2 separate regions of the Homo sapiens genome follow, and region 1 is linked to region 2. The links come from fine-mapping of genetic effects on gene expression. A gene starts in region 2. The other region holds a variant in brackets. All regions are shown on one strand. Distances are between the middles of the regions.

The links. PIP is the estimated chance that this variant, and not a neighbour inherited with it, causes the effect.
Region 1: its variant is fine-mapped to the expression of TECPR1 in esophagus muscle (GTEx, PIP 0.99).

The regions. Positions count from the first base shown.
Region 1 is chr7:98,215,381-98,218,225 of GRCh38, forward strand. BHLHA15 (basic helix-loop-helix family member a15) reads left to right here. Exons shown (of 2, transcript NM_177455.4): 2 at 1-77. TECPR1 (tectonin beta-propeller repeat containing 1) reads right to left here. Exons shown (of 26, transcript NM_015395.3): 24 at 2,556-2,662; 25 at 2,312-2,431; 26 at 1-2,123. The coding sequence ends at 2,010. Among named protein-coding and RNA genes, the nearest start is that of BHLHA15, 5.4 kb to the left of the region's middle. The variant C/G (reference allele first, on the strand shown) is at 1,211.
Region 2 is chr7:98,250,716-98,253,615 of GRCh38, forward strand. It overlaps TECPR1 (tectonin beta-propeller repeat containing 1), which reads right to left and starts at 1,517. Exons shown (of 26, transcript NM_015395.3): 1 at 1,411-1,517; 2 at 679-833. It overlaps LOC124901706 (a long non-coding RNA gene), which reads left to right and starts at 1,644. Exons shown (of 2, transcript XR_007060448.1): 1 at 1,644-1,813; 2 at 2,169-2,900. RefSeq lists an enhancer at 1,164-1,907 and silencers at 1,224-1,613, 1,704-1,803.

The DNA of each region.
Region 1 (2,845 bases), 35 kb before region 2:
TTTCAAAGTATTCATGAAATTGATGCTGTGTCATAAAACAAAAATAAAAGATTTCACAGCAATGTCTGCTTCAGGCACACGGGGAACCACGCGTTTTAATCAACGTATCGATAAAAAACACCAGGGCACGGACACTCCAGGGGAAATGCTTATTGAGTAAAGTATCCGAGGAAGTGATGCAGGGCAGGTAAACAGCTGGTGCTCAGCAGCGAGAGGACGCGTCACTCTGCCGTTCTGCAGGGTGACGCCCTCCCCGTACCTCGCTGAGAGCCACCTGCAGACACAGCAGGCCACAGCAGAATGCACAGGTCACTGTTGTAGGGGAACAAATCGTAATGCCCAGAGAAAACCTGATAGTGAAATGTAAACAGACAGGACAGGGTGGTTCCAGGTGGCCACCACCGCCAGGCCCTTCCCGTGATTGATCTGAGAGCTTCACAGCCGGCGGCACTGGGACCCATTTCCAGAAACACTGGAACACCAGGTCTCTCAGATGCCCGCGGGAGGGGCCCCAGGGAGGCCTTTCTCAGCATCAGCTTTTGGGTGACAAACCCCATACAGCAAAACTGTACAAATACACACAACGGACCCCCAGCTGACAGTGAGACCAGGACCCTAGGAAGGTCAGGTGGTGGTGAAGTCATCCCCTCTCCAACCGAGCAGAGCCTGGGGTTGGGCTCTGATGACCTCCCGGGCAAAGTGTCCAGGTGGAGGAAGCAAACTCCCAAATGGGGCACAGAGGTAATAAAAAGCAGCTGAGAGACTGCGGGATGGGGTCGGGGCCACTTGGCCGACACCTTCTGCCTCGCCTGGCCGGGCCGGGCCAGCCTCTCGCCACAGGATGGAGGGTGACTGTGCACCCTGCTCCATGTACAGGACGGGCTGAGGGTCCCATGGCCACTGCCGACAGACACAGTAGTACTGCTCCCCACAGAAGCCCGCAGTCTGCACCCTCCTACAACATGATTTGACATCCAAGAAGCCCCTGTCACCAGCGCATCTGGGGAAGGGGCCGAATGGGGGTTGATGATGGTGACTGCACACACGGACACTGCCTCCAGCCATGGGGCAGCCTCTCATCCTCTCCCAGCCTCCCGTCTGGTACCCCGGCCCCCTCAGGGAAGAGGACATCCCATCCACTCCAGTGTTATTTCCAATCTGCTGTCTCCTTCCTTCACTTTTTTTTTTTTTTTTTTTTGAGATGGAGTCT[C/G]TGTCGCCCAGGCTGGAGTGCAGTGGCATGATCTCGGCTCACTGCAGCCTCCGCCTCCCGGGTTCAAACGATTCTCCTGCCTCAGCCTCCCGAGTAGCTGGGATTACAGGCACCCACCACCATGCCCAGCTAATTTTTTTTTTTTTGTATTTTTAGCAGAGATGGGGTTTCACCATGTTGGCCCGTCTGGTTTGAAACTCTTGACCTAGGTGATCTGCCCACCTCAGCCTCCCAAAGTGCTGGGATTACAGGCGTGAGCCACGGCGCCTGGCCTCCTTCCTTCACTTTTGAAATTAAAGCCTCTTTGCAAGTCCTGCTCTGAGAAATGGTCACTGCACATGGTAAAGAGGCCCTGAGCCCCATGGCCATCTCTCTTGGTGAGGGGTGGCGGGCCCGGGTGCTGTCTGAGATGCCAGCTCAGGAGGGCTCCATCCTGGCTCTGCTGCCCCAGGGCCGGCGTTCCCGGAGGGCTCCAGGTTCCCGGTTCTAGTCCTGGAAAGGCAGAAGGGAGAGGGGAAGGGAAGGGTGGGAGGGGCCTCTGGGAGGTGCAGCCCCACCCCATGCCCCACACCCCGGGACTCCTCGCAGACGGGGACACGTGTGGGAGTGTCCGCGGAGCTTCACATTTCAGGGCCGTCTCAGCCAGTGCCTCTGAAGTGGCCGCAGCCTTGGGGCCAGGTTCCCTCCTGAGTCCACCTGGGCCACATTGCTCCCACGGTGCACACTCCAGCACAAGAATGGCTCAGCCTTGATCCCCCAAACTGGGCACCGTCCCTGCATGTAGGTGTGTGGGGGGGCCTCAGCAGCAGACGGGGCCATGGGCCTCTGGTGGGGCACTCGGCTCCTGCTCCTGGGACGAGCTCCGGGGGGCCCTGGTGGCATTGGCCCGGACAGAGATATGGTCCCAGCCTCCCTGGAAGGAGAGAGCTGTGTCACCAGGGGACTCGGGGACTCGAGGATCCTGGAGGGGATCTGCCTGGGGGCCTCCCTGCAACCCAGACACCGGGTCCCAGGGGACAGTCCCACAGTGGTCGTCCCGTCTTCAGCACCCAGTGCAGGCACAAGGTGATAACACAGCCCAAGGCCGCGGGCCCCGCTCACCCCGATGCCGTAGTCCCAGCCGTGGCCCTTGGGCTCGTGAGGCTGCACGCCGGTGCGATGACACACTGTCCCCCGGCTCAGGCTGTGGCTGCCCTGCACTTTGTTGGCGATCACCCAGACCTGGAGCACAGACCCCATGAAGCCCTCAGCCCTACCTGCAGTGGGACGGCTGGGCATGGGATGGGGGAGACCAGAGAGGGAACCAGAGCACCCCAAGTGCCCGATACCCCCTGAGCACCCCCACCTGGTCCAGGGGCCCCACGGACACTCGGCACACGTTGTTGGACACGTGCTCCCAGCTGGAGCCCTGCGGGTAGCTGGGCGTGATCCCTTGGCGATACCACAGGTTTCCTGGGGAGAAAAGCAGTGAGGGTCAAAGGGGAAGACCTTCCCGGCCCCTCCTGCCCGTGCGGCCCGGCAGCCGGTGGCCAGGCCCCGCTCTAACCACTTCGGGGTTTGGGAAGCTGCTGGGGAGGCAGGAGGGTCCTGGCCCCTGAGTCAGGGCCACAGCCTCCTCCGCTTCTCCACACTCAG
Region 2 (2,900 bases):
GCTAGACTCAGTCTGCAGGTTGAGCTCAATGAAAGGAGATTTTGACTTTCCTTCAAATAAATGACTAAGCACTAATTTCCTCATAGACATCATTGAATCTTCTGGGCAGTTAATGGGAGAAGACTCTGCTACAGTGAAAGGGAGGGGTGGGGGGTTGCTGTATTTACAAACTCCCTTCAGAGTAGAGACCCAGGCACCTGTCGTCACTTCCTAGCTACAGTTGACATCCGGTAACCATCCTTGGTCAGCCACACTTTCTTTCTGCCTCTGCCAAGAGGCTCCCCCTAGCTCCTCATGGGCCACTTTCTGGCTGTGAGCTGATCAGGCAACTTACACAGGGTCACTGGGTCAGAGGACTCTTGAAAGGGGGGTTGGAACATGAAGCCCCATGATTCAGGGATCCTGGGACTTGTTTGTTTTGTAGGGTTAGAGGGATGGAGGAAAATCTTCCAAATCAGCAGCCTCGAATTCACCAAGAATTTCTACAAGATGAATTTGAGTTGAACCTTCAGTCTTTCCACGAAGAAGGTCTGCTCGCCACCCTCAAAGCCATCTGCCTTTCTGTCTCAGTTTATTCACAGATCCTTTCAGAGACCAAAAAAAGCACCCAAGAGAGGCGGGGACAGAGATGTGGTAGAGGAAAAGACACAGTACAAAGAACGCTCCGCAAGCACTTACTTCCTCTGAGCCTTAGGAGTCCTACCTAAAAGGTTTCTTGCTTGTTTTTCTATTACACTGTCACTCCCATCCGGTATGCAAACAGTCGGCAATGCCTACTACAGTAGCTCGCTGGCTGCCAGGTGCAGGGGCTGTTCAAAAGCGACATCAGGGTCCTAAAAGGTGGGAAAAAGCAGCAGAACTTGCATGGTAGTTGATTCTTTCCTGAAGAATAGGGTCCGCCCAGCCCCACCGGGCAGGAGGTGTCCTGAGTCAGCCTGGCGTTCAGCCCAGTGCTGTGCACTTGGGTGACAGGTGGGGCCCCTGCACTGCCACCAGTAGCATATGTCGGAGCTCTGGGCCCTGACCATCTGCCAAAGCTAATCTTACGACAAGCAGATTTGCTCCCATCAATACCCAGGGAGAGGGATAGGCAGGCCCCTTGCTGCGTGATTCTCGAAAACAACCAGGATCCCGCGATCCGCTTCTCCTATGGCTCCAGTCCAAAGGCTGGAATGGGGGCGTCACCTGCACCAGGCAACTTCGCTAGCCTGTGGGCGTTCCAGGGCAGGGGACGGGGGCGGCACCTTCCAGGTGTGCAGGCGAGATGACAAGTGCGGTCCCTCCTTCCTCCCTCCCCGCGAGCAAACAGCCTGGGGGTGGTGGGGAAGGCGGCGTGCCCAGCCCTTCATCGCCCCATTCTTTCCCACGGCCCTGGCCGCCGCTGCAGCTGGGGCGCCACTCTGCACTCACCTGGGCCCGCGCCGGGCGGGGCGAAGTCGCGGTGGTAGGTCCTCGGCGTCCGGGAGGAGCGGACCGGCCCTCCCGGGGACCGGGCAAGAGGGTGGGCCGGAAGCGGCATCAGGCCCCGTGCCCATTGGCCAGCCTCGCCAGGACGCTGCGACCTGGGACGTGCGATTGGCTGCGGTGCGCCGCGTCGGTGCTGGCTTCGAGGTCGCGCGCCCGCCCACTTCCGGGGTCGCGCCAGGTCAGGAGTCCAGAGTCGGCTGAAGCGAGTTGCCGCGTTCTCTCTGGCGGCGCGACACCGGCCCGTGGACCGCCCGGCCGCCCTCCAGGACCCGGTCTGCAGGAGCGGAGAGGGCGGTGTGGACACCGCCTGCAGGCGAGGAGAAGGGGTGGCGGAGAGGGTACCTGGGTGCGTGGCTGTGCGGCGTCAGGAGGAGCAGGGTGTGGGCGCCCGGCCTGGGGCGTGGAGAGGACGCAGGGAACAGGTGTCTTCCTGGTATCCATCGAACTGAAACGTAGCCCTTGAGCACACACTACACTTAAAGCTTTACTCTTTCGAGGAGGAGTCCTGGAAGCATATGTGATTTTGTGACTATAGCATGGTGTGGTGTCAGTAACAGGCCCTGGATTGCTCAAACTCTATTGTCAGTGACAAAACCCAGTGTAAGCTGGCCTAATATATTAATAGTAATATGCGAGTCCTCCCGGGGTGGCGGGCACTGACGTAAGTGCTTTACTTGGGTCTTCTCATTTCATCCTCCCAGCAACCCAAAGAGCTGGCGGCGTCATTCCCATTTTACAAATGCGAACACGGGCTCAGAGATGGAGCGACTCACGTTGTAAGCGATGGAACTGGGATTTGAAAACACTGTATCCCGCCTGGCAGAAAACTGGCAAGGTTAGGATGGAGAAAGGAGAAAAAAGAAAGATGTCGGCCAGGTGCGGCGGTTCATACCTGTAATCCCAGCACTTTGGGAGGCCAAGGCGGGCGGATCACTTGAGGTCAGGGGTTTGAGACCAGCCTGGCCAAGATGGTGAAACCCCGTCTCTAGTAAAAATGCAAAATTAGCCAGGGGTGGTGGCGCATGCCTGTAATCTCAGCTACTCGGGAGACTGAGGCAGGAAAATCGCTTGAACTGGGGAGGTGGAGGTTGCAGTGAGCTGAGATCGTGCCACTGTGCCACCGCACTACAGCCTGGGCGACAAGAGCAAAACTCCTTCTCAAAAAAGAAAAAAAAGGGCATCTGATGGAAGGCTAGATACTACCCGACATTGAGCTAAACCAATGTCACCTGGTTGGACCTAGGGACCTATTCCTGCTCCCCCTCTAGTTCTGTCTCATTTCTGGGGTTGCACACAGGCTTTTCCTGGGCCTTCATGTTTGGGGAAGCCCCACACAGGCCAGCTCCAGTGGAAGAAAACGCCCCCAGAAGCCTCTTGTTCACCCCGGATGGCTCTGTGGAGTCCTGTGTCTGACCCTGACTTTAGCTTGGGCC